Linked DNA regions of Homo sapiens. The protein of the gene in region 1 purifies or fractionates together with the protein of each later gene. This does not show direct contact. Each region holds a gene or a part of one and is shown in the gene's direction. Other genes may lie near its edges.

Region 1 (7,213 bases):
AGCCAGCTGGGCCCCCAGCTCTTCCTTGCCCTGATACATGACCTTGGCAAGTCTCTTTCTTTCTTTCTTTCTTTTCTTGAGATAGTCTTGCTCTGTTGCTCAGGCTGGAGTGCAGTGGCATCTCGGCTCACTGCAACTTCCACCTCCCATGGCTTGAACCTCCCAGGTTCAAGTAATTCTCCCACCTCTGTCTCCCAAGTAGCTGGTGCTACAGGTATATAGCACCATGCCTGGCTAATTTTTGTATTTTTACTAGAGACGGGGTTTCATCATGTTGGCCACGCTGGTCTCGAACTCCTGACCTCAGGTGATCCATCTGCCTCAGCCTCCCAAAATGCTGGGATTACAGACATGAGCCACCGCACCTGGCCTCCCTTCCTTTTTTAGTAGACATCAGTGCCTAAATGATGTCAGGGATCTCTGCTGGGGAGGATGCAAGAGTGAGTGTGACAGGCTGGGAGAGTGTGGGAGAGAGGGAAGATATGCATGTGTGTACGTGGGTGTGAGAGTGGGGAAGGTTAGAGTGAACTGCGATCTGTAATAAGCATGTGGAGAGCGTGTGTGTGACAGTGTCTTACGTGGGAGTGCACAGGGTGTGGGCGGGAGTAAAAGGCAGAGTCCAATTCCACCGGCCCCCAGTGTGGGTGCAGTGTGAGCCCAAAGTGGGCGCCCTTTGGCAAGGACTGCATGAGCTTTCTTCTCCCTCTTTTTCTTGCCCTCTCTCCCATCTCTTCTTTCCTTCTCCATGTCTCTCTCTCTCCCTCCCTCTATCTATCTTGATTTATCTTTCTTTCTTTTGAGATGGAATCTTGCTCTGTTGCCCAGGCTGGAGGGCAGTGGCATGATCTTGGTTCATTGCAGCCTCAACTTCCTGGGCTCAGGTGATCCTCCTGCCTCAGCCTCCTGAATAGCTGGGACTACAGGTGCACACCACCACTCCAGCTAATTTTTTAAAATTTGTTTGTAGAGACAGGGTCTTTCTCTATTGCCCAGGCTGGAGTGCAGTGGTGTGATCATGGCTCATTGAAGCCTCAAACCTCCTAGGCTCAAGTGTTCTTTCTGCCTCAGCCTCCTGAGTAGCTGGGACTACAGGCCCGCATCACCACTCTGGCTATTTTTTTTTTTTTTTTTTTTTTTTTGAGAGGGAGTCTTGCTCTGTCACCCAGGCTGGAGTGCAATGGTGCGATGTTGGCTCACTGTAACCTCCGCCTCCCAGGTCCAAGCGATTCTCCTGCCTCAGCCTCCTGAGTAGCTGGGAATACAGGCATTGACCACCACACCCAGCTAATTTTTGTATTTTTAGTAGAGACGGGGTTTCGCCATGTTGGCCAGGCAGGTCTCGAACTCCTGACCTCAGGTAACCCACCTGCCTTGGCCCCCCAAAGTGCTGGGATTACAGGTGGGAGCCGCTGCACCCCGCCACTTGGCTAATTTTTTTTAAATGTTTTTGCAGAGACAGAGTCTTGCTATATTGCCCAGGCTTGTCTGGAACTCCTGGGCTCAAGCAATCCTCCCATCTCGGCCTCCCAAAGTACTAGGATTACAGGCATGAGCCACCGCACCTGGCCCTTGATTTATCTTTCTTTTTTTTCTTTTTTCTCTTTTTTCTTTTTTTGAGATGGAGTTTCACTCTTGTTGCCCAGACTGGAGTGTAATAGTGTGATCTCGGCTCACTGCAACCTCTGCCTCCCGGGTTCAGGCGATTCTCCTGCCTCAGCCTCCCTAGTAGCTGGGATTACAGGCATGCGCCACCACGCCTGGCTAATTTTTTGTATTTTTAGTAAAGACGGGGTTTCTCCATGTTGATCAGGCTGGTCTCGAACTCCTGACCTCAGGTGATCAGCCTGACTCGGCCTCCCAAAGTGCTGGGATTGCAGGCGTGAGTCATTGTGCCCAGCTGATTTATCTTTCTATCTTTCTCCATCTGTTTGAGACTCTCTCGCTCTCTATATTAAGTTGTTAAATCTCAGTCAATCTTTATTTCACTGTGTCTCTCCATCTCTATATGTCTCTGTTATTCTGTTTCTCTGTCTCTGTTCTCACCTCTGTCGCTCCCCTCACCCCACAGTCTGTCTCACACACACCAGGAGCTCCATAAATATTTGTTCTCAGCCACACTCTGACCACGCCTCTTTCTCTTATGTGTCTCTCCATCTCCGAGTGGCTCTGCTCATCACATCCCTGGATTTTATAACCATATGCTGGTGGGCCTGCCCTCCCCGCGTGCACATACACTTGCCTGGGATAAGCTTCTTCTGCCTGCTTATCTCCTGCGGGAATTGGAAATGCTAGTTTTCTCCCTACCTCCCCAAGACCCCCGCCAATATCGTTCCCAGGAACAAGATGAGGCATCTGGCCTCAGCCCCCAGCTTCATCCTCGATGCTGGACTTCCATCTTCCCTCACATGCTTGACTCCTTGCCCTCCTCCCACCTCCCCTCTCCCAACTGCTCTCTACACCCCCTGGGAAATGGGCTGGATGCCGAGCTGGGGGAGTGGCTCTGTCCTGGGGGCCCTCGCCAGATGGTGTCCCTAGGTGCCAGAGCGTGGAGCTGTCCCTTGCTGGGGCCTTTAATAAGCACAAACCTTCCACCCTCCACCTTGGCTGTTTTCCTTCTCTGCATGCTCCTGGGACCTTGGGCTCTCCATCTTTCCATGTCCGTAGCCCCAGAGAGCCAGGAAGGGGAAGCGGCGTCAAGTGCCTGGAAAAACAGCCCCATGACTTGAGTTCCTCCCTAAGACTCAGGAGTTCCAGCCCCATGTCCATCCTATTTCAAAATCCAGGCACTAGATAAGCCACACAGAAGCCGGGAGTGTAGGCCCCCAGATCCCTCCCCTCTCAGACCCTGGGGTCTCAGTCCCTTCTCTCCAAGGACTCGGGAATTTGGGCCTCTGATCCTCCTGGCCACACTACCCACCCCCGCACCTCCCCATACACACACACACACACACACACACACACACACACACACACACACACACACATACACACAGGACTTAGGACAGATGTTCACGGTCTGATTTCCAAATCCTCCTGGGCCTGTGTGGGGGTGGGGAGAGATTGGCAGATAGATCCACCGACTCTTAAGACTTAAGACCAGATATTCTGACCCCTGTCACCCTCTTCCAAGTGCACCATGCACTTGAGTGCACCTTGAGTCTCCAGCCTCTCAAGGAACCGGGAGATCAGGCCATCAGCGTCTCAGCCAGCAAAGGCCTGAACCACCAGTCCCTTATAACCCTGTAAGTCCAACCCCCACTCCCAACCCCACTCCCCCATTTAGGGACACGGAGTCTGAGCCTAAGAACAGTGGAGAATCTGAATGTGGACCCTCCAGTTCTTACAGGTCCAGGAATGTCAGATCAGGGTCCCAGCCCCCCAGCCCTCCTTCAGGCTGCTCGGGGTCCCTCCCACCTGCTCGGCCAGCTGCGCAGCGTGGGAACGCCCCAGCTGGGCTGCATGGAGCCGTCAGGACAAGCTGCGCGGTTCCCAGCCTCCCTGCCTGCCCCGGCCCGGCACCGCCGCCTCCCAGCCGTCGCCGGGCAACCAGGCCGAGGGGCCCGGCCGGCCGAGTGGGGAGAGGGGTTGGGCTGGGACTGCGGGGTCCTGGGAAAGGAGGGGCCGAGGGCCTGGATTCCTGGGTCTTAGGACGTGCTGTAGTTTGCAGCAATAACAAGGGAACAGAGGGATATTTTGAGGAGGGGTTTTGAGGCTGGGGGAGTCGAGGTAGGGGTCCCAACTGTCCCCCAGGTATCGGTGTGCCCTCTTCCCGACACGCAGGCCCGGGGGAGCCCCGGACCCCGCATCCCCCAGGGCGCGGAAACTGGCGAGGCCCCAGGAGCTCCCATTTATAGCTCAGTTTCCACTGAGCGCAGTCCCTCTAGGACCTGGGCTGAGCAAGTTTCTTCCACTCTCTCCCTTCCCTCCTCCTCACCCCTTGCCTGCCCCTCAACCCCGGCAGGGCGCAGGTGTCCAACCCAGCCGGGACCCCCTCCCTCCTCGAACCCAGGTGTTCCGGCTCCCAGACCCCAATTGAGCTGGGGGCGCCCACCCGCCGGGGGATCCCGCCCTGCGTCCCCCATTCATCCGCGTCTCAGCCGCGGGAGTTTCTCAACGGGAAGAGGGCGGAGCTCCCGGGGGGCGGACCCGGGCGGGGCGAGCGGGATCGGGCCCTCTTGGGGTCTCCCAGAGACCCAGGCCGCGGAACTGGCAGGCGTTTCAGAGCGTCAGAGGCTGCGGATGAGCAGACTTGGAGGACTCCAGGCCAGAGACTAGGCTGGGCGAAGAGTCGAGCGTGAAGGGGGCTCCGGGCCAGGGTGACAGGAGGCGTGCTTGAGAGGAAGAAGTTGACGGGAAGGCCAGTGCGACGGCAAATCTCGTGAACCTTGGGGGACGAATGCTCAGGATGCGGGTCCCCGCCCTCCTCGTCCTCCTCTTCTGCTTCAGAGGGAGAGCAGGTACCGCACGAGGGGAGCGGAGGAATATGGGGTGGGGGTGGGGAGTTGCTTGCGGGCTGCCTCTTCACTAGCGAGAAGGGAGCTGGGGGCTGGGACTCCTGGGTCCTGAATGAGGAGGCCCCTGAAGGTGCTAAGCTCAGCCCTGCTGCCCCGAACTCTCCTAGGCCCGTCGCCCCATTTCCTGCAACAGCCAGAGGACCTGGTGGTGCTGCTGGGGGAGGAAGCCCGGCTGCCGTGTGCTCTGGGCGCCTACTGGGGGCTAGTTCAGTGGACTAAGAGTGGGCTGGCCCTAGGGGGCCAAAGGGACCTACCAGGTAAGAGTGTTCTCTCCACGCTGGGACGGGCTGGCTAGGGGGAGAGTTGCTGGGCTCGGCTGTACCTGCAGTTTCTATTTTGACATTTTCAAGTTTGGGAAATTGATGGGCTCGGGTAAACATTTAGGAGTCCTGATTTTTGAGCTGCTTCTTTGGGGGTGACCCACGGAGTTTGGGAATTATTATGTTATTGCAAAATAGTACATAGGCCAGGTGCAGTGGCTCACGCCTGTAATCCCAACGCTTTGGGAGGTTGAGGCCAGAGGATCGCTTGAAACCAGGAGTTTGAGACCAGCCTGGGCAACATAACAAGACCTTATCTCTACACAAATGTATATATATATTTTAAACAAATTAGCCGGGTATGGTGGTGTGCATCTATAGTCCCAGTTACTCAGGAGGCTTAGGTGGTAGGATTGCTTGAGCCTAGGAGTTCAAGGCTGCAGTGAGCCATGATCAAGCCACTGCACTTCAGGCAATGGTGAGACCCTGTCTCAAAAAAAAAAAAAAAAGAGAACATAAATGCAAAAAAGTACAGTAAATATAAATGGAAGATTTACCAAATAAAATAGACACACACAGCCAATACCCAAGTCCATTGCTAGCTCCCCAGAAGACCCCGTGTTCCTTTCCCCTATCATAGCCCCCTCCCCCTCACTCCAGAAGTAGTATCTAACCTAATTTTTATGGCAATCATTTTCTTGCTTTCCTTCCTGACTTTATTACCCCTAAGTTTGCAGTGACTCTGGGTTGGGAGGGAGTTAGAGTCTCTCTGGGCCCAGTACACACTTTTTAATAGTGTCTTACCACCAAATGTGTGGGCCAGTTTTCTGGTGGAGGATGTCTGGGGATGGAGGCCTGAGGCCAGGATTTCAGAACCATGGTGTGCTGACTGCCTTCTCCCTGACTCCAGGGTGGTCCCGGTACTGGATATCAGGGAATGCAGCCAATGGCCAGCATGACCTCCACATTAGGCCCGTGGAGCTAGAGGATGAAGCATCATATGAATGTCAGGCTACACAAGCAGGCCTCCGCTCCAGACCAGCCCAACTGCACGTGCTGGGTAAGGACCTCGCCCACTTGTCCCCTGGGAGCCCAAGAGGGCAGCCCGTACTAGCTGTGAGTAGCAGAGCCCAGGGAGCCCAGGGGCATGGTCAATTGGAGCTGAGAAGATCAGGATCCATCTCTGACCCCAAATCCACCTTGCAGTCCCCCCAGAAGCCCCCCAGGTGCTGGGCGGCCCCTCTGTGTCTCTGGTTGCTGGAGTTCCTGCGAACCTGACATGTCGGAGCCGTGGGGATGCCCGCCCTACCCCTGAATTGCTGTGGTTCCGAGATGGGGTCCTGTTGGATGGAGCCACCTTCCATCAGGTCAGGTCCAAATTCCTGTGCTAGCCTTTGCCCATTGAGGGAAACTTGGGTTACACTCTGACCACAGGCTCATCCAGAAGAGAAGAAGACATGGGAGGGCAGAGGTTCATGGGTTTGGACTCTTGAAATATGATGCAGGGTAAAGATTCTAGGGCCAGACTACCTGGGTTCAAATTATGTCTCAGCCACTTGCTAGTTGATTGATCTTGAGTAAGTTAGTTAACCTCTCTGTGCCTCAGTTGCCTTATCTATACAATCAGGATAATAGTAGCATGCATGTCATAGGGTATTGTGAGAATTAAATAAATAAATACCTATAAATGCCCAGAAGAGTGACCAATACATAGTGAGCACTATATAAGTAAGGCAAGCTTGTCCAACCTGCGGCCCATGGGCTGCATGCAGCCCAGGATGGCTTTGAATGTGGCCCACCACAAATTCATAAACTTTCTTAAAACATTATGAGACTTTTTTGTAATTTTTTAGCTCATCAGCTATCATTAGTGTTAGTATGTGTGGCCTAAGACAATTCTTCTTCCAATGTGGCCCAGGAAAGCCAAAAGATTGGACACCCCTGATGGGTAGATGGCATTATTATTCTTATCCTTCCCTCCAGACCCTGCTGAAGGAAGGGACCCCTGGGTCAGTGGAGAGCACCTTAACCCTGACCCCTTTCAGCCATGATGATGGAGCCACCTTTGTCTGCCGGGCCCGGAGCCAGGCCCTGCCCACAGGAAGAGACACAGCTATCACACTGAGCCTGCAGTGTGAGTGCAGCTGGCCCTGGGAAAGAGGGGTGTGGGGCCCTGACTCCTGGGTATGAGGAAGGAGGGGACTGTGGCCCTTGGGGAATGAGGAAACTGGAGCCTGGACTCCTGGATCTAAGATAGCAGGAGAGGGCTGGGTATGGTAGCTCACGCCTGTACTCACAGAACTTTGGGAGGTCGAGGCAGGCGGATCATCTAAGATCAGGAGTTCGAGACCAGTCTGGCTAACATGTCGAAACCCCGTCTCTACTAAAAATACAAAAATTTGCCGGGCGTGGTAGCACACACTTGTAATTCCAGCTACC
Region 2 (7,488 bases), on another chromosome or scaffold:
GCTGTGTAGCCTTGGGCAACCTTGGGCACATGCTCTCAGGATCTCCTGGGGCTGTGTCTCAGGCCATTGGTCATTCATATTTGGCTCAGAATAAATCTCTTCAAATATTTATAGAGTTTGACTCTTTTCATTGACAATATCTTTTGTAGTTGTCCCCCAGTTCTTGGATATTCTGTTCATTTCTTGCATACATTTTTCTCTGCTTTTTGGTTTTGAAAGTTTCTGTTGACATACCCTCAAGCTCAGAGATTCTTTTCTCAGCCGTGTTCCATCTACTAATACGCCATTCTTCATTTCTGTTATGGTGCTTTTCATCTCTAGCATTTTTTATTATTTTTTAGAATTTCCATGTCTCTGCTTACGTTACCCATCTGTTTTTGTATGTTGTGTAAATTTTCCATTAGAGCTCTCAGCATATTAATCATAGTTATTTTAAATTCCTGGACTGATAATTCTGACATTCCTCCCATATGTGAGTTTGGTTTTGGCATTTGCTTTGTCTTTCCAAGTTGTATCTTTGGCTTTGTAAATTTTTGTTGAAAGCCATACATGACATCCTGGGTGAAAGGAATTGCCATAAATAGGCCTTCAGTGATGTGTTGGGAAGGTGTTGGGAGAGGGAAAATGGTCTATTTTCCTCTGATTAGGTCTCAGTCATCTAGTGAGCCCAGTCCCCTGGACTGTGAACTTCACAGTGCTTCTCAGCTATGTTTCACCCCCTTAGATGGGGCAGAATGTCTATGGGGGGCTGGAGTTGGGTATTTTCCTTCTCCCAGGCTGGCGAGACTCTGATAAAACCCCAGTTGGTTCAGCTCTGGTAAAATTGTTTCTTTTGAGAGTGGGTCTTGTTAAGAAGCACAGAATCTCTGGCACATTCAGAATAGTTACTTTCCTCCTCCCTTGCAGGAAACACGAGAGGATTTTTCTTCAATCTTCACTATGAGAGCTTTGTGGAGCTCCTGGAGGCAAACTTACAAAAGCACAGCTGCTCCCCTAAGACTGGGCCCCCTTGGAGTTTTTAACTCTCAAATTTGTGCATATTGGTCCTCCAGTAATTTGTCAATTATAGTCCAGGTCTTCCTACTCTGTACTGGTTCCCACTGAGATTTCAGCTATGGGACAACGGTTGTGGGGTAGTGTGTGTGGTCTACTCAGTTAAGTTGTAATTGCCTGTATCTACCTGTCTACATCTCTAATTTTGGGGCAGCAGTCTGCCCTGTGACCTCACTTCTTTGACTCATCTAAGAAGAGTTGTCTATTTTCAATTTGTGCAGCTTTTTACTTGCTTTTTAGGATAGAGTGATGACTTCCAAGGTCCTTACATGCCAGGCCAGAAATTGGAAATCTATTATTGTTTTGACCCATGCATTATTTAGGAATATAATATATTATATTCCTAATTATATAATTATATTATATAATATAATTATATTATATATTTTTATATATTTATATTATTATATAAATTATATATATTTAAAATATATATTTGTATATGTATGTATATATGTATATATACAGTATATGTATGTATGTATATATACAGTATATGTATATATATACGTATATGTATATATGTATATATACAGTATATGTATATATATACACAGTTTGCTGACATAGGCCATGTGTCCTCTAGTTGACTTCTTGGACTCTCTTGGGTAGAATCCCATTATACTGGCTCAAGCCTGGTTACTTCCTACGGTGTCCTCTTGGTTTATAGGAAACTCATGCATATGCATCCTTGACACACCAAATTCTAGTGGTGTACATAGTTTCCACTACCTTCTCTCTTTGTTCTAACATTTGGGGCTTCAAACTCTGGGGAAGTATGTCAAACCTTTGGGCAGGATACTTATGGGCTATTATCCCCAGTCCTGGGGTTTAATCAGACACTATGAGTCTAAAGGCAAATGTCCACTCCACATCTGATTACTCTTTCATTTTCTTTCCCTTATTATAACTTCTGTAATATATCATGGGATTGGAATATCATTGGCCTTGGTATATACCATGGTGTTCTAATGAGTTTACCAATTTTATATATTTAGATATGAAGGAAATGTTGTCATATAGCAAAGGGCCTAACTACTTCCATTGGTCTGTTGTGACAGGATACTGACCCTACACATCATTTAATCACCGTGGGCATTATTTATCTTTTTAAACCAGGGAACGATCACTTGTTCTAAATAATTCAAGTTTTGGGAAGCATCAAATGAAATGATCAAAATGAAATCTGTTTATACAGTGTAAGTTAAAGATACCCATAACTATTTTAAACATTGCATTTGGTATCATGACTTTAAATTACATAAGTTGAGAAGTTTTATGTTATCTCTAAATAAGGTTTATTTACCAGAAAATCATGGACAAAAATTATCCTATAACAAAATGAAAACATCATGTCATCTGTGCCAATTGCAATTTTAGGAAGAGTACTTATTAGGGCTTTGATTATTCTTTGATGTTCTCTGTTGTCAAAGTGAAGTAACCTAAATGATGTTATGCTTGCATCCTGGAATGAAAGGAGGAATGAGAATCTTCTATTATTGTTTTTCTAAAAATTATATTTCTTAATAAACAGAATATATCCATATGTATCATCAAGGATGAATTTTCCTCTGATTTGGCTTAATGAAATCTCTGGGAATTATGAAAAAATTCCTTTGCCGCTCTTGTTGCCATAAACCTTGTGTTATCAGTGTTGCACAGACCATGGCTAGCCATTTAATGCCGTGAATTATGGCATATAATTTGAATTGAGAGCTTTGTTTCTATCAAAGGTAAAAATGCTTCTGGAGTGAGTGAGGAAGGCTTTGAAGCAGTGAGAGCGTTTCCCCTATAGCATCATTGGGCTCTGACAGTAGGACCTTGAAGAGGAGGGTTCTAATCCTGTCTGCCACTATGTGACAGGCAAGTCACCTGATCTTTTTTTTTTTTTTTTTTTTAGAGTCTTTCTCTATAGCCCAGGCTGGAGTGCAGTAGTGCCATCTCGGCTTACTGCAACCTCTGCTTCCTGGGTTCAAGCGGTTCTCCTGCCTCAGTTTCCCGAGCACCTGCGACTACAGGCACGTGCCACCACGCGCCCAGCTAATTTTTGTATTTTTAATAGAGACAGGGTTTCACCATGTTGGCCAGGCTGGCCTCGAACTCCTGACCTCAAGTGATCCACCCGCCTCGGCCTCCCAGAAGTGCTGGGATTACAGACGTGAGCCACCGCGCCTGGCCCCGATCTCTTTGAACTCAGTTCCCTCATCTGTAAAGCCAGCGGCTTGGGTTGGATAATCCATACTGTCCTTTAAGCCAAGATATTCAGGGCTTGTAAATAATGCTGACTTTGCAAAGTAAGATATTGCCCGGTGTCTGCAGAATCAGGCAATTCCAAGGCCATTGTAAGGCGAAACAAAGCTCAGATTTGATGAGAGAAAATTTCTTTTCAAGGACTTCTTCCGAAGCATAAATATACGGCAGATAGCGTCAACACAGGAGAAAGGCAGTCTATTTTATGCAATGTAAAATTCCGTCTTAACTTCTAGGATTACTGTTACATCCTATTGCAAAAATGGGACTCAGGTAGACCATTTGACTACAAGACCCGAAATAAGTCAGTGGTATTTCTTGGGTACTCTGGCATTGTTAGGGACGATCACATATGTTTACTCATTTTATACTTATAACACCTTGAAAACTTCAAGAAACGGAGATGGAGATTTTGCGGCTTGCCCAGGTCCCACAGCTAGTGAGTGCAGAGGATTTTAAACTCAGCTGCGCGCCTAGTGCAGGTTCCAGAACCTCAGAAACCTCCGTGGGGCTTTATGAAACATAAGGACGCAGGCCGCTAGTAACAATAGCTAACGTGAATGCCTTCTCTGGGCCAGGCTCCATGCTGCATGCTATAGTCGCATTTTCTTGGTTAGCCCTCAGAACAACCTTCTGATGGAGATACTGCTAGTACTTGTTTACTCTTTGAAGGGCGGGGTAGGCTCTGAGACCCGCGAGTTGAGCTGCAGCGGGGTGAGTGTTACGCTACCAGGTAGACGAGGGTCTGTGTAAATTTGGCGGAAGGGAAGTGGTGGGTTGTCTCCCAGTTTGGGTTCTCTGAAGGAGTGAGGGGACTCTCCAGCTATGGTCTCCACGTACAGTCGGTCTCTGATCTCCCGAGGCTTTGTGCCACTGCGCGCCCAGGGATCTTTCTGTCCCAATTACCGTGCAAGATTCTTGCCTCCAGTTGTATGTACTGAGGCGGCGGGAAGAAGCGCCGAGGGAAGGCTCAGACCGCAATGCCCCCCAGCCTGTAGCTATTCTCGGGGGCTGCAGCTCCCGCACCCGCGACGCCCGGCTTTCAGCGGGTGCAGGCGCAGCCTCCTCGTTCCCCTCCCGCCCGCGGCTGCGCCCGGAGAGCGCTCAGCTGACCTAGGGGCGGGGCCGGGGCGGGGACCTAAAGCCTCGGCTACTTCCGAGGGGGTGAGTGGCTTCACCGCCGGTCCCTTGCAGCGCTGCCTTTCGATCTCTCCACATCTCGGTGGCGCGGGATCTCAAGATGCGCCTCCACCTGCTCCTGCTGCTCGCGCTGTGCGGTGCAGGCACCACCGCCGCGGAGCTCAGTTACAGCTTGCGTGGCAACTGGAGCATCTGCAATGGGAACGGCTCGCTGGAGCTGCCCGGGGCGGTCCCTGGCTGCGTGCACAGCGCCTTGTTCCAGCAGGGCCTGATCCAGGTATGGCGTGCGGCCGACCCGCGGCGAGCCTGCGCCCGCCTTCTTCTGGTGCTGAGAGGGGCCCAGGAACCGCCTGGCAGCCCCCAGCTCTGGGCCATTCTCGTCGGTTTGGTAGTAACTTCCCCTTTGCATCTTGTGATCTGCGGGGGGAAATGCCCAAGCTATGGGGTACGGGCTTGACGGAGACTGAGCGACCGACCCATGTTGGGACATCAGTAACTCTGGAAAGGGGAAGTTTAGATAGGGGAACAGTGTTGCTACTAGCAGTTTACTTACTGCAGTCGTTCTCTACTGAAGCGTGTATACAAAGGGCATGCCGTCACTGACAAGCATAAGGTCGGGAATTACTGTCTCTACTGTCTGCACGCCACAGGGGACAACAGCGTTTTGTTAAGTAAGGGTTAACTCTATTGAGTAATGTCTCGGTTTTTTATTTTCGCTGTTAAGCGTCAGGGAGTCAGATTTGGGATTGACGCAGCACAGACGTTGTGGAGAATGACCTACAAGAGTAAAGTTGGGTTTGTCAGTGCTAGTGTGGCTAACAACGGGTAAATAATTTTTAAGGCTAACTTGGTGATGAAGAAAGGTGCTATTTCCTCTCAGGGCGTGTGTGTGTGTGTGTGTGTGTATCCCAATGGAGTCTCCAATTTACAGACTACTTGTGGGGAACGTTTTCGTGTTTGGCTGCCTGTGCGCATAGGTTTGCAAACTGACTTCCATCCTCCAACTGCTTTTGCTGTTCCCTCTTGCACAGCGTTCCCACGTGTTGTCTTTACTTGGGGCAAAATGTACTTGTAATTGATCTACTTGTGGGATGCATACATTGTCCAATCCTCATAACAACTCTGTATAGTAAGTGTTCATATCTGAATTTTATGGATAATATGGAATTATGGAACACAGAGAAATTAGGAAGGTGACAGCAACTAAATGGAAAGAAATGGAATTCTAACCCAGGTGGTCTCAACTCCATAGCCTGGTCTCTATACTATGTGGTATGCTTAGTTTGGTGTTTTAAAAAATCATGTGTTTTTGAAGCACTGTGGCTGACTTTCAGGAGCACCATTCTAAGTTTATTTGCATGACAAGGTGGTCATCTAGGGTTGTGCCAAATTTCTGACCTGGTACTTAGTAGTTTTTTTTTTTTTTTTCCTGAGATGTGTATCAGAAAGGAGGTGAATGTTGTAAATGACATTGACCATTGTCCGATGTATTTTTAGAGTAGATCATTCCCAAACTTTAGTACTTTATTTTAAGTTGACAAACTACTTGTGATAGAGAACACAGCTGACCACAGTATACTCTGAGTTTTCACTTATATCTGCTTTGAGAATGCCTGTGTTTATTTTGTAGGGTTCCTCCTTGCCTGATTTTACTGAAATAATTAAGCCAATGGGTGCTGGTACGTGAGAGCTTTGGGAGGCCAAGGTAGGAGGATCCCTTGAGTCCAGGAGTTCAAGACCAGCATGGCCAACATAGAAAGAGTCTATGAGGCCGAGGTGGGAAAATTTCTTGAGGCCAAGAGTTCAAGACCAGCATGGCCAACATAGAGAGATTCTATCTCTAAAAAAAAAAAAAAAGAAAGAAAGAATTAAGCCAATGGGAAATAATGAGTGGCTTCAGTAAGTCAGATTATTGTGCCATATTACAGAGCTAAGAAGCTAAGAAACAACGTTTGGTTACAACAGATACTTAATGAAAATGAATTTGCTCATAGTATGAAATAACTTCCTCATAGGAACAATTTGAAGAGATTTCTTAACTCTCTTCATAAATTCTTAGCAAAACCTTGAGGTTTCAATCAGGTGGCCATGGGTCTCAAATGGCAGTGGAATGAGAAATGGGAAGGCTTTTGGGGCTTAGGAAACACAAGGCCTGTTGAAAATAATCATCAGGCTGGGCACAGTGGCTCATGCCTATAATCCCAGCACTTGGGAGGCAGAGGTAGGTGGAGTTTAGACCAGTCTGGGCAACTGGCGAGACCCTGTCTCTACAAAAAATTAAAAAATTAACTGGGCGTGGTGGCGTACACCTGTGGTCCTAGCTACGAGGGAGGCTGAGGTGGGAGGATCGTTTGAGCCCAGGAGGTTGAGGCTGCAGTGAGCCGTGATCTGTACTCCAACCTGGGCAACAGAGTGACACCCTCTCTCAAAAAAAAAAAAAAAAGAAAAAAAGTAAAGAAGCAATCATCAACATCAGATCAGTATCGTTATTCAGTAATGTGAGACTGTTGTCCGACCTGCTTTATTATAACATCCCTTTTTGGTGTTGACTTGAGGAAATATTCTACCGTTTATAGTAGACACTGGGCCAAATATTGTGTTTGTGTAAGAACTTGAAACATATCTTGGTGATATCATTCATTTATTTATCTATTCACCTAGTTAATTATCTCATATTTATTTTGTACCTCTAATGTGGCAGGCACTATTCTAAGTACTTGAAATCGAGTGGTAAAGAAAACAAAGTCCTTTCCCTAATGGACATTCTAATGGAGGAGATAGACATATATACCAAATTAATAAATAATGTAAGGCAGGTGGCACACTGAAGAAAAATTGAGCAGGTTAAAGGAAGAGACAGTGAAGGCTGGTTGGAAAGCATTGCTATTTTTTAAAAAGTGGTTCAAGATAGGTATTTTGATAAGGTGACTTCTAAACAAAAAGACCTGTTTGAAAAGGTCACTTTTAAGGAGAAGTGCATTTCCAGCAAAGAGGAAAAACACAGGAGTGGGGAGGATAGAGGCCCTGAGGCAGGCACGAGCTTGA
Region 3 (7,026 bases), on another chromosome or scaffold:
ATTTTCATTTCTATGTGAGGTAAGGTGACTTGGTTGTTGGCAGTCACATGCCAGTGTCAATTTTCTTCTCATTGATGTCTATAAACTGTCAATATTCATGAATCCAAATTTCAGTATGTACCCAACCAAATGGTAAATGAAATTTACTGTAGAATTGTTGCTTCTCTGCAGCTAGTACAAACTGTTTTGGAGATTCTGTGTTGGCACAGAGCAGAGAGGAAAAGAACTTTAGGGAAAATAGTGTGAGTCTTAAAGAGGGCACATAAATGGCCTTAAAATGAATAAAACATTAAGATGAATTCGTTAACTAAAATAATAAAGATGTTGCCAGCCATATGGAAAAATATGTTATTCTTTGAAAAATTGACATTTTAATTACGTTTTTTTAAATGTCCGATTCATATAATGATCAGAAGTTAACTAAGAATACTCTATTTCGAAAGTTTTATGGAGCACGCAAAGTGTCACTTTCTAGTTTGGAAAGAAAGGGATTTTGTTGTTGCTAGTTTAGGAATATGCTGGGTTTAATTATTACAGGATAATTAAAGAACTAAAGCTAAGAATGTATGTGTGGTTTTTGTTTTTTTTTTTTTAACCTTTTACTAACTCTTAATGGATATGTAACATTTGCATTAGGATCTTGGATAGAGTTACTTAATAGTGGATCAGACAACTTTCCAGATAGGGAATCAAAGTGAGACTCGCTGTTTTGAGACAAACTAGTTCAGACTGTATATAAAATCATTTGTTTTATATAAAGATGCATTTCAGGTTCTTTAGTGGTAATAAAATAGTTACAGTATAATATGTTTTCAGGCAAAAAGTCTGTCAGAATGGTCTTTAGCTGCTTCATTGCCCACAGGTTAATTGGTATAAAAACTTCCTTGACACCACTTTTAAATATATTTACATACACACGTGTGTATGTGTATGTGTGTGTGTATGTGGGTATATTTGTGTATATACATGTTTGTACATACATTATGTGTGTGTGTATATACGCTTTGTCTTATCTGTAATGGCCAGTGTTTGAAGAAGAAAGAAACTAGACCCTATAGATTAAAATCTTTGAGGATTTTTCAAAGCTTTCCATGGGGGAGCATTTCTTACACCCCACGTAAGGAAATATTGGTCTGGGTATTTCATGGACTATTGTGTTCACTCGTTAGCTGAAATGATCAGCTATCCTAAGACTAAATACTAGCCTAATCATTAGCTTTTTTAATTTCTTAAATTCCTGAGATTGGGATTTCATGTACTAGTAGAATTGTATTTTACAGGCCCAGAGCAATGGCTCACGCCTGTAATCCCAGCACTTTGGGAGGTCGAGGCAGGTGGACCACGAGGTCAGGAGTTCAAGACCAGCCTGGCCAACGTAGTGAAACCTCGTCTTAACTAGAAATACAAAAATGAGCCAGGCATGGCGGCTCACGCCTGTAATCCCAGCTACTCTGGAGGCTGAGGCAGGAGAATCGCTTGAACGCGGGAGGCTGAGGTTGTAGTGAGCTGAGATCACACCATTGCACTCCAGCCCAGGTGACACAGTGCAAGACTCGGTCTCAAAAATAAAAACTGTATTTTACGCAGTGACAATTCGGTAATATAGTCCATGATTTAATGAAACAGTAGTGTGGGATTGGATTTTTGATATTTGTTTTGTTTTAAAATTCTAGAAGGAGTTAGCTTTTGCAGCCCGTTCTGATGAATTTATTGTCTTTACTGCAGGAATGTATTTTGTAATTTTTTTAGATATTACAAAGTATGAGGAAAGCTTACAAGTCTACAGAAGTGCTGTGTGTTCTCATCAGTAGATTTTAGTTGTTAAAATTAATTACTTTGAACTGAGATTGCACCACTGCACTCCAGCCTGGGTGACAGAATGAGACTCCATCTCAAAAAATAAATAATAAATAAAATAAAATTAATTACTTTGAATAGGTAATATTGCCACAGTTTAAAATTCAGAAGTCCCCTTCGTACATCAGCCTCCAGCTACTAAATTCTTCTACCTGGAATCTAATAACTGTTATTAGTTTCTCATTTATTACCTTTTAATAAAAGATGAATTTGGGTTCTGGAAATAATCTTGACATGGGAGTTTTTGAAAATAGATGTATTTTTTTTCTAGTTATTGGAAAAGTCACAGGACTGTTTTGAAGTGCTGAAAATCTAATTGTGATATTTATAGTTCAAGAAATTTAATGAATGCATTAATAGATTTTGCTATTCATTTCTACTCTGAGCTAATCTTGTAGAATAAAAACCTAGTCTCTCTAATCCCATATTTGTGGGATAAAAATCTTATCTATGACACACATATATATGTACCCACATATATATACATATATATGTATATATGTACACACGTGTGTATATATATACATGTACACACGTGTGTACATATATACATATATATGTATATATATGTACACACGTGTGTATATATATACATATATATGTGTATATATGTACACACGTGTGTATATATATACATAAATATATATATCTCCCCACCGGCAATATTTTATGTAATATTATACGTACTGAATGATTTCAATTTTTAAAAACCCTGCAATTCCATAAATACGTGTATATATATACATATATATGTGTGTATATATACGTGTATATATATACACGTGTGTGTGTATACGTGTATATATATACACGTGTGTGTATACGTGTATATATATACACGTGTGTGTATACGTGTATATATATACACGTGTGTGTATACGTGTATATATATACACGTGTGTGTATACGTGTATATATATACACGTGTGTGTATACGTGTATATATATACACGTGTGTGTATACGTGTGTGTATACGTGTGTATATACGTACGTGTGTGTATACGTGTGTATATACGTACGTGTGTGTATACGTGTGTATATACGTGTGTATACGTGTGTATATACGTATATATGTGTGTATACGTGTGTATATATACGTGTATATACTTTTTTCTCGACACTGTACTGATGAGGAATGAGCTGTATATTTATAATATGCAGCAGCCAGGAGACACTCCTTGCTGTTCTAGTCAGGAATGCTAGTTATACTTTCTGTGGCATTGTTCTAGCATGTGATATTTTAACTTCATGGATCCTGTGCAGTCTTAATAGAGGAGTTCTGCACAAGAAACATGATTTTTCCTGTTTTAGGAAGTAAGTACTGTGGGGTACTACTCTGTCATCTGGTGGCTAACCCTTCCAAATGTATCCCATGAGAGGAGACAGTGCCACTCAACCTTTTGGAGGCAGGAAGTATGGGAGCTGTAAAAAGAGCCTATTTTCTTAAAGCTTGGAACTTACTTGAGGGATAGAAACAGAGTAGTGTTGCTATTAGTGTTAAAGTTGTGCTGATGAGGCCTAAGAGCTCTGCTGATAAGGCCTAAGAGCTCTTATCCTGCTTTTCTCCCTTTACTGGAAATTCTGACAAACCCAAGAGAAGGCCAACCAGCTTGGAGACCTACTAGGTAAGGCAGGAACCACAAGTAGTTCCTGATCTGTTAGTGAGAACCCCTAGTTTGAGTATTTTCTCAAGTCCCCCCGCCCCCCACCGTTTGTTTTAACTTTGAAAATAACCAGTTTACAGTAATGAGCTATTTCAACATGAGGTCTTTTATTGTCCCCCTATTTATCCCTGATATTAAAGTTACTCTTATTTTGTTTCTGTCTTGTCCCACTTATCTTTGAAGTATTACTCTGTTTTAGACCTTCCAATTCACTGATTTATCAGACCTTTGAAATATATTCTTATCTTCCACAGAATTATAGTATGTGACTTTGTTGGCAAAGTATTCCCCAAATTGTAGTTGCTACCCTGTGAAAATAAAATTATGAAGATACACTATAAGGAATGAGACAGTATGATGTAAAGAGCTCAGAGTTAAAGCTAGCTAGATATGGGTTCTAATCCTGACTACACATCTGATTAGTTATTTAACATTTGGTGAGCAATGTTACCTCTCTGAGCCTTACTTTGTGATCTTTCAAGTGGGAATCACACCTGCCTTATAGAACATTTGTAAGGATGAGAGATAGTAAAGTTCCTAGCACATGATAGATATTTAATAAATGATAGGTCTTTTAAATATAAAAAGTAAGGGATTGTATCAGCTGTATATAAAATTAAACCCAAGAGATAAAATTCAATCTGTATGACTTGTTACAACCTCAGAGAAACTGATTTGTTGAAGCTTATACCAATTCTTTTTTTTTTTTTTTTTTTTGAGACGGAGTCTTGCTCTGTCGCCCAGGCTGGAGTACAGTGGCGCGATTTCGGCTCACCGCAAGCTCCGCCTCCCGGGTTCACACCATTCTCCTGCCTCAGCCTCCTGAGTAGCTGGGACTACAGGTGCCCACCACCACGCCCGGCTAATTTTTTGTATTTTTAGTAGAGACCGGGTTTCACCATGTTAGCCAGGATGGTCTCGATCTCCTGACCTCGTGATCCGCCCGCCTCGGCCTCCCAAAGTGCTGGGATTACAGGCATGAGCCACCGTGCCTGGCCCCCTTATACCAATTCTGTAAGAGATTTTATTACTTTTTTTTTTTAATAAATGAAGAAGTAGAGGCTCAGCTATACAACAATGAAGATGCATAGTAAGTAGCAAAAAAATTTCAAAATTGATTTATATCACCTAATCTTTCTATAAACAAGGAAAGATACCAAAATACATTTGGCAGAATGTTTGTATAACTTTCAGGGGATGCAATAACCTGCCCCTTGAAGCAGATCTGTCCCCTGTTCTATACCATCTGTCCTATTGGAGATGGCTGCACTAGTCTGATGCTATTGATTGTTGACTTATCTGGTTTCACATTTTTCAAGTAATCTTCTGATTATAATTTTACCTCTCATGTAGATTTGTCTCAAGATGAGACTCTACTGATTGACCAGCATGTTTTTCCAGTGTGTTGATGAGATCATTAAGCACTCATTATACAAAGAAGGGTAGATTTCCCCTGAATTACTCATAAGTTATGAATAAAGGGTATTAACTGATTTTAGCTCATGGTTGTAGGCTGGACTATTTCAGAAGGAGAAAAATGTGCGTTAAATTAGTTTTAGATTTCAGTGGTAATTTTGACTGGTTTGTGGACTAAATATTCTTTTCTCACCATGGTTTGGTGTGTTTCTTATATGTGTAGCTTGGAGTTTTTATATATGTTTGGTTAGCATAAAAAATGTGCTTAAACTTAATCCTTAGAAAATAGAGAAATGAAACCAACTAACTTCCTTTACATGATTTATTTCAGTTGAAGGCAAATATCAAAAATGTTTATTTTCCTTTGAAAATGAATGCATTAATTGCATTTAAAACGTTTTTTAAACACCCCGAATAAGATAGCATGTTAAAGCAAGTGTGAGTTCAGTATGTTAATTGCTTGCTCTCCCAGTTTCTAAAAACCCCGTTGTTAAATGTTTTGTTCTTTTTAACAAATGAAGATCATGGGGCTATGTTCAAAAAGGGGAGAAAATTGTTTTCTTCCATGTGGTGACTAAACCTTAAAAAACATTAAGGAATATTTTCACATCTCATGAGAGAAGAGGTGTCATTCATCCTTTTTTTTGTGTGAAGAGAGCTTTTGTATTTTCTCATACTTAGAGATTATTTGAAGGCTAGAAATGGAGTAAGAATATGTACTTTTAGTTATTTTTCTGATAATAGTGATAATCTCATTTTTACTCTTTTTTCCTAGTGAACAACACTCCTTTTCCAGATGGTTGAGTTGAATTGTGGCAAAATCTTTGTTGGAAATTTTTCTTTTTTCTTTTCCTTTTTTTTTTTTTTTTTTTTGGTTTAAGACACAGTCTCACTCTGTCACCCAGGCTGGAGTGCAATGGTGTGATCTTGGCTCACTGCAACCTCTGCCTCCTGAGTTCAAGTGATTCTCCTGCCTCAGCCTCCTGAGTAGCTGGGATTATAGGTGCACACCACCATGCCTGGCTGATTTTTGTATTTTCAGTAGAGACGGGGTTTCCCCACGTTGGCCAAGCTGATCTCAAACTCATGATGTAAAGTGATCTGCCCGCCTAAGCCTCCCAAAATGCTGGGATTACAGGCGTGAGCCACCTCACCCGACCAGAAGTTTTTCTTTAGTGTGAAATTAACTGGCCACTGTGTGGGTTTAACCTTTGATATTGGTGTCTGTGTTACTGTAGTGTAACCAACTGACTTGAATCAGTTTAGCCTTTGCTGATTTGCCAACTCTACTTGGGTTTAGATACAATAATTCTTTTTTATATCCAAGCATTGATTTTTCTATCTTCCATTCATAGTATATTAACATACTGTATATAAGAACATGTGGCTTTATGAGATTCTAACACTTAGTAGGAAAGGGGATGGGGAAGAGGAAGAGCATGTAACTATTTTTTATTCCCTTGTTATATATTGAGATGGACAACTTTGGTATGTATGTTACTAGTTATTGTTTCTTCCCACATAATTGGTCATAACTTTTTGAAAAAAGAAAAAAACAAGCTTTAAAGGGAATTAGAAGTGAATAAAATTTAACAAATGAAAAGTAGGAGTCTTTCCAGACTTCTATCATAGTAAAGAAGAAATATCAAAGAAGATTTGTTGAGAGAAATAGAAGTTGGAGTAAGGCACTATATTTTGAAAGCTAGTATTTTTAGCAAAGTGTTCTTATGGTAAAGGAAATTATAGACTCACTCACTTTATTTCATATAAGGTCAGCAATACATAAAAGTAGCCACTATACTACTTCACACTTACATATGAATGACTGATGTCTTCATTAATTCTCTGAAAGACATTTGCATTTTTAAGAGACTGATTATGATAACTTGTCAAATTTTGGTATTTTAGGCCAAGTAAAAGAGGGAAGCGAAATTAAACAATTGGGCGGGGCATAGTGGCTCATGCCTGTAATCCTAGCACTTTTTGGGAGGCTGGGTGGGGTGGATCGCTTGAGCCCAGGAGTTTGAGACCTGCCTGGGCAACATGGCGAAACCCCGTCTCTACAGAAAATACAAAGTTAGCTGTGGG
Region 4 (7,026 bases), on another chromosome or scaffold:
TTTTATCCATTAGGCCCAACTGCAGAAGCCTTATGTACAGTAATTCAGCTTTACCCCATTTGATCTTTACTGCAAGTTGAGGATCAAGTGGTATTTAAAGCATGATGTATCTATTGCCACATCTGTCTAGTGCTGAATCAGGCAATAATGCTTAAACATTTCATTGCTACCAGTTGTTAATGAGGCAAAACATGAGAAAGATGGTTAACTATGCATGCAACCAGTTTCTTAGAGATCATTGTTATTACTATAATCAACCGTTTATATAAAACAGCAAAGTCTTTTTTTCTCATAAAAAAGATACAGTCTGTGGCACTTGTTGTGCCTTTCTTACAAACTGTTTGTTAACTGCCAGTCACTCCCTAGTAGTTAACAATCAATCTGTTACCAATCTAAGTTCAAAACATTGTCAGATGTGTTTATGATTTTGGTCTGTTGCCCATAGCTGGGACTTCCCTCTCATTCTCTGGTTTTTAAAATGGCAGGATGTCAAAGTGTACGGCAAAGGAAACCCCACAAAAGTGGTAGCTGTAGACTGTGGGATTAAAAACAATGTAATCCGCCTGCTAGTAAAGGTAAGTAATTTGTTCATTTCAAAGGTGAGGGTTTGTCATATTGACCATTAGTGTTCAGCTAATTTCCTCTGTCACAGAGAAACTTATGCATTCTTTCAGAATGTCAGGGGTCTACATTCTTCTTGTTGCTTTTGATTTACAAAATAACACATTTATCCCTGTTCAAATTAAAAATATAGACTGCTATGTTTTTTCTTTAAAAAAAAAACCTCAAGGGCCACTAAAACATGGAAGAAAATGATGACTGTTCTTGTCATTAATTGACTGACAGTCTGAGATGCATCATGTTCACTTTCTTTGTGGTATAGAGATGACCAAAAAGCTAGAGTCTGTCTGATAGCATCTCCTTTGGGCTTACATTTATTTTGTACCACACGTTTGTAGGAATCATGCCCTGACAGAGTACGAACTTTCACATTGTTTTTATATCAACTCTTAGACAACCAGTTAAAATTAAACCTTAAAAATTCTCAAGGAGAACTTAACCATCATAATAATGTTTCTTAAATAAAGTTTTGTTAGGATTTTTCCTTCTCCTCACTCCTCTCTCAGTCTGTCTCTGTCTACACATCTCCCCTCCATACACATACACACACATACACACATATTTGCATAACACCAAATTAGCATGCGTATTGGGAGACTCTTCATCGTACCTCCTTATTAGAGAATACCAGCAATATTCAAATCATGATTTCAAATTCTTGTCAATTTTATTAACAAACATTTGCATGGATAGCATGCATGGTAGCAGATGCTGTGGATGGCCTGTGTATATCTCAATCTCAAGTTACCATTTTAATTCATGTTGCCCATCTTCCAATTGCAAATATCTATATCTCTTTGCCTGATGGCTGGAGCCTACTGGCAGGCAGTAAATGGCATAGAATTAATGATCTCTGGAGTAGCCCCCAACCAAAGCACAGAAAAAGCCAGTGTTTAACCACCCTGGCTCCTTTGTCCCATGGATAGGCAGTCTCTAAGGTAACTATTCCACACGGGCTCTCAGAGTTCCCTACTGGGCTTAAACTTCACTTATCCCTAGTGGTAACTACTTGCTAATGCATAATTTATTGGGGTGTTTCATGATGTCACTTCCTCTCTGTTTAGTATGGAAGTACCTTCCAAATAAGCTTTTGTTCTCTTAAATCCTTGTTTCAGGAAATGCTTCATGGGAAACCCTCAAAGACACCTTCCTATGTGCTTTTATATTAAAAGAAATTTCTAAGTTTTCCATTCGAATATAAATCTTACAGAAAATGAGAAAACCCTAGGAAAGAAGGCTGATTAAAATTTGATAAGACTAAAAGGCAAGACTGAAAAAGGTCTGACGTGGGCCAACTTAACATTTTCAGAAAATGGATTTATATCTTTTTGCAACTGGTCGTGTGAAGGTAACCTACTCTCCTGTCAGTCCAGTCATGGCATTTGTAGGCACTGAAACTTCTCTTGAGTGCAGGAGAGTGCATTATCCATTTTTTCAGGATCAAAACTTTTAATGGTGTTTATTTTTATTTTTATTTTTATTTTGAGACAGGGTCTTACTTTGTTGTCCAGCCTAGAGTGCAATGGTGTGATCTTGGCTCGCTGGAACCTGTGACTCCTGGACTCGGGTGATCCTCCCACCTCAGTTTTCTGGGTAGCTGGGACCATACCTGGCTAATTTTTGTTTTATCTTTTTTGGTAGAGATAGGGTTTTGCCCTGTTTCCCAGGCTAGTCTTGACTTCCTGGGCTCAAGCAATTCCCCCCTATCTTGAGCTTCCCTATGTGCTAGGATCACCGGCATGAGCCACCAAGCCCGGCCCCAAAGAAATTTTTGCTCAGCATTATTTATTTTAAATGTTTACAAATTTTTCCTTCCCTTTAAGGAATGGTTAGTCAAGAGAAAGTCTAGCAAAATTATACTTTGGCAAAGAAACATGTTATTAAATTCATCATTCTTGTGTCTCTTTTCCAGCGAGGAGCTGAAGTGCACTTAGTTCCCTGGAACCATGATTTCACCAAGATGGAGTATGATGGGATTTTGATCGCGGGAGGACCGGGGAACCCAGCTCTTGCAGAACCACTAATTCAGAATGTCAGAAAGGTGCAATGAACCTTGAATTCATGTGTATCTGTGTGGGAGGTGGGGGCTTCCGCTCTATACCCTCAAAGGGCTGTGATACATTTTATTTATTCAGGCATTTTTCAATGCTGGTATTTGTGACTTCTGAGGCAGTGTCAGTAGAGATATTCTGTAGGGGAACCAATGAGGAGAGAATATCAGAGAAAATAGGGTTTTTCTTCAGGCAAAGTAACTTGGGGATCATGTCCTTGAGTTAAAAGAACTGGAGTCCAATGGCCAAATGTATTTTGCTTTACAGTTTTAAACCGACAACTCATGGTTCCTTATCATGACCTTGGGACCCATAAGACCTGCAGGTCTCTAAAGAAATATTAAATTAGATTTAGTTTAGTTTGAATGTAAAGTACATCTTAATGAATTATAATGCTACAAATTTGTCAATTATGTCCTTTTTTATATTCTTCTTTAATTCAGTTACTATTCTCTTTACCTTCTTAAGAAAAAAGGATACCTCATTTTTGTTCATTCAGAAGCAACATTTTTTGGAACTGTACTAATTGGTTAATAAAAATTCTCCCTGATTTAGATTTTGGAGAGTGATCGCAAGGAGCCATTGTTTGGAATCAGTACAGGAAACTTAATAACAGGATTGGCTGCTGGTGCCAAAACCTACAAGATGTCCATGGCCAACAGGTGAGGTATTTTCACTTTTGCTTACAGTAAACCAGCTCTGACATACTAACTAAATACAAAGAACTCAGAGCACTTACCTGCCATTTCTTTAGAGTAAATAAATGCACATGTACCCTAAAACTTAAAGTATAATAAAAATAAATAAATAAATAAATAAATAAATAAAATAAAAAATAAAATAAATAACCATACCTTACGTGGTTGACAGTTGTTTGACTACCTGATACCACTTTTGTTGCATTTTTGGAAAGCAGCCTTCTCTAATGATAACCTTGCTATAATTTAAAGTTATTTTCCTTCCCTTGGCATAAATTGAGGTTATAATACTCAATCAAATGATATTCCAAGGGAAATTGTTCTGATTTTAAGCTTGATTTCAGAACATTGTAACATTTTAAGAAGGTAAGTGTGACTTAAGAGCCGAGGAACCTTTAGATCCTCTTGGTTTCTCTTTTTTGCCTCAAACAATATTAATTTATTAAACATCAGGCTTTTTCCCATGGCCCACCCTCTACATAAATTATAATTCAGGTCTGAGCAGTCATCTCTTTGTTATCTCCCTATAACTCTCGGGCTTTAAAATTATTGTAGTTCTCTTAAAGTAAGTCACTTATATTTCTTAGTTTCTGTTAAGCCGGTGAGCAACCCTTTTTGTTATGAGTGCAATGCCCCCCTTTCTAAAACCGATTATAGAATTTAATAGACCTGCGTATTTAACACACAACAAAGCTTCCTGAATTGATTTTTGTTGGGAAAATTACTGGGATTAACAATCTGTGACTTTTCTCACAGAGTGATTTTCACTAAGCAATTGAAATTTTGAATTTTAATAGGCTTTACTTGTTCACTACTTTATAAGGAATACATTTATATTATTCTCTTCACTTTTCCTTTTCCCTATTCTTTTTCTCCTTTTCTCTCCAGAGGGCAGAATCAGCCTGTTTTGAATATCACAAACAAACAGGCTTTCATTACTGCTCAGAATCATGGCTATGCCTTGGACAACACCCTCCCTGCTGGCTGGAAACCACTTTTTGTGAATGTCAACGATCAAACAAATGAGGTAAATGATGTCAATAAACCTGTTCAGTTGGTGATGAGAAACGCAGGGCTTTTAAAAATAATTGATACATAAGCATTGTATATATTTATGAGATACATGTGATATTTTGATACATGCATATCATATGTAATGATCAAATCACACTAGGATAACCATCACCTCATTTTTTATTTCTTTGTATTGAGAACATTTCAAATCTTCTCTTCTAGCTGTTTTGAAATATGCAATAAATTATTCACTCAGAATATTCACCCAGAGTTTTTAAATACACTATGATGCAAATACCTTTCTCCTGTTTGTTTGTGATTTTTTTGGGGTTGAGTGTTGAAAAACAGCTATAGGTTTTCTCCCATAGCCCTCTGTGTTTTAAAACGTCATTTCTCTCTCTTATTCTCTCATCAGTTGACTTGTTAAGATTCACTATTTGAGTTATTAATCAACAACTATCTCATATATTCAATGTTAGTGGGCTGTTGGTCCAAATCTGTTTGAGCCCCATCTGGGTGGGTCTCTGGGACTTACTTGGCACTGGTGTAGTGTTTGAGAAGACCCTTGGAAAAGTAATTTCGGACTTGGGGATAAGATGAGGACTTGAGTTTACTCTGAACAGAACCCAGAGGGGTCCCAAAGACTATAGACCAAATTTTTTATTTATTTATTTATTTTAAAGGAAAACACATTCAGTTGAGTCTTCATTGACCCATTTTCCATACTTAATCAAAAAGGTCAGATATGTAAGTCCTTAAGATATCGGACCATGTTACTTAATAGTACTGTTAGTTACAAAAATTTTGTTAAGCATCTAACTCAGTTTTTAAATTTGAGCTTTATTGTTCCCTGAATAATACATAGCCACACTTGACATTCATTGTTACAGAAGGAATTTCTTCCTGTTTCTTATTCCTTTAGGGGATTATGCATGAGAGCAAACCCTTCTTCGCTGTGCAGTTCCACCCAGAGGTCACCCCGGGGCCAATAGACACTGAGGTACGTCAAAAAGATGAGGCCTATTATGTATGCAAAAAAAAAATGTATTTGTGTGGAAATTCGAGAAACCAAAATAATCACCCCAGATGATCTTGAGCAGAACATTCTCAAGAAGAGTGCTTTGGTAACACACATTTTGTATTAAAATCTCCCCATGAATGTCACAGAGGAAATTTTTATCTTTTTTAAAATTTAAAGTGGGAAAGCCCTTAAGAAACCCGAAGCGATGGTATTTTTATTTAAACCCATTATCATTCTAATATATTTAGTTCTGAAATTTACAATTGTTGTACTATGCAAATGAATTCCCTTTTGCTCTCTCTCGTTCTCATGACTGAAATGAAATTTTAATCCCCCATCTGTGACTTCACAAAAATCCCTATGGCAACTGGTTGTGTAGCCACTAAGGGAGAATAAACAGCAGCAGGAGAAGGAGGGGAAGGGTGTTGGAGGGGAGAGAGGGCATGCATGCACATACATAGATGATTCAGACGGCTTCAGAAAAGAACCACAAGGAATGCTTAGAGGAGTTTTGTATTTAATCTAAATATTTTTACTTTTTTGTGTGTGAGCTCTTAGTTCATTGTTCAAACCCATCTTTCCAAATAAATTCTTCTGGTGATATCCAGAAAAATCTGAAGTCTATTGTGACTTCCCCACACCCAGGGGCCTCCAGTAGCAAATCTTCATTGTCAGAACTCTCAGAAAAGACTTCGAGGTAAAATGGGGAAGAGAATAAGAGCTTTCTTTCTGCAAGCTCTGCTCTACTCTCTCATGTCTGAATTGCCGTTTTAGATATTTATATTTTGTTCTTGTTTTAATATTATTAGGAAATATTGGTTCTTAATAGCCAAAATCAGTATTATATTACCAACCCATGATGAAACTCATAAATCAAATTTAGTTATGTGTATCATCTAACACATGCTAAGTAGTTTTTTAATTTAAAATTTAAATTAGCATATATTAGTACTTCGGATTAGGAACATTGCAATTAAGATGTAATAATATCCACTGTCACATAATTCTCCTTTTTTGTCTTTCCAATAATTGCAAAATGAATATTCTTTGTTGTAATTTGTCATATCTAGTGAAACAACAGAAGTAAATCCTTTGGCAAAGATTAAGAATAATCTTCAGAAACTGTTTTTTAGAGCCGATAGAAATTTAAATTTAAATTAGTATTTCTAATTTTCTATATCATAAGTGATATAGCTTCAATTGTTATATCCACCTAGAATTTGATTTAGAAGAAACAAATGATATACAATTTACTAAAAACTTGGCATTCTCAGAAGGTATCTGATATGTTTACTGCTTGTTGGAAACTTCTTTTTTATAAGACTTGAAGTGAACAGAAGTGTTTATTTGATTAAATTCTCACACTAACAGATATTTAGTTATTGACAAAAAAGCAAAAAAAGCTGAAATGCTATAATAAAAATTATTTGTTGCTTATCTGAAGTTCAAATTTAACTGGGTATATTGTGTTTTATCTGGTGAACTTAGGAATTTTGAAGCTTCTAACTAGTTGGTTGTATTTTTTTCTAGTACCTGTTTGATTCCTTTTTCTCACTGATAAAGAAAGGAAAAGCTACCACCATTACATCAGTCTTACCGAAGCCAGCACTAGTTGCATCTC

Evidence for each region.
Region 2: the proteins of KIRREL2 (region 1) and MANBA purify together in Homo sapiens (affinity purification with mass spectrometry; 3 studies listed by BioGRID and IntAct, with this or other methods). This does not show direct contact.
Region 3: the proteins of KIRREL2 (region 1) and FBXO11 purify together in Homo sapiens (affinity purification with mass spectrometry; 3 studies listed by BioGRID and IntAct, with this or other methods). This does not show direct contact.
Region 4: the proteins of KIRREL2 (region 1) and CPS1 purify together in Homo sapiens (affinity purification with mass spectrometry; 3 studies listed by BioGRID and IntAct, with this or other methods). This does not show direct contact.

Annotation. Positions count from the first base shown.
Region 1 is NC_000019.10:35,852,724-35,859,936, forward strand, and holds the start of KIRREL2 (kin of IRRE-like protein 2 isoform c precursor), read left to right. Parts: upstream 1-4,187; 5' UTR 4,188-4,396; coding exon 4,397-4,457; intron 4,458-4,621; coding exon 4,622-4,771; intron 4,772-5,684; coding exon 5,685-5,834; intron 5,835-5,980; coding exon 5,981-6,141; intron 6,142-6,757; coding exon 6,758-6,908; intron 6,909-7,213. UniProt on the Homo sapiens protein: May regulate basal insulin secretion.
Region 2 is NC_000004.12:102,757,950-102,765,437, reverse strand, and holds the start of MANBA (beta-mannosidase precursor), read left to right. Parts: upstream 1-4,469; 5' UTR 4,470-4,543; coding exon 4,544-4,720; intron 4,721-4,985; exon of another isoform or gene 4,986-5,114; intron 5,115-7,488.
Region 3 is NC_000002.12:47,896,487-47,903,512, reverse strand, and holds part of FBXO11 (F-box only protein 11), read left to right. Parts: intron 1-7,026. UniProt on the Homo sapiens protein: Substrate recognition component of a SCF (SKP1-CUL1-F-box protein) E3 ubiquitin-protein ligase complex which mediates the ubiquitination and subsequent proteasomal degradation of target proteins, such as DTL/CDT2, BCL6, SNAI1 and PRDM1/BLIMP1.
Region 4 is NC_000002.12:210,587,573-210,594,598, forward strand, and holds part of CPS1 (carbamoyl-phosphate synthase [ammonia], mitochondrial isoform b precursor), read left to right. Parts: intron 1-485; coding exon 486-575; intron 576-2,533; coding exon 2,534-2,662; intron 2,663-3,227; coding exon 3,228-3,334; intron 3,335-4,258; coding exon 4,259-4,397; intron 4,398-5,306; coding exon 5,307-5,384; intron 5,385-5,782; exon of another isoform or gene 5,783-6,102; intron 6,103-6,935; coding exon 6,936-7,026. UniProt on the Homo sapiens protein: Involved in the urea cycle of ureotelic animals where the enzyme plays an important role in removing excess ammonia from the cell.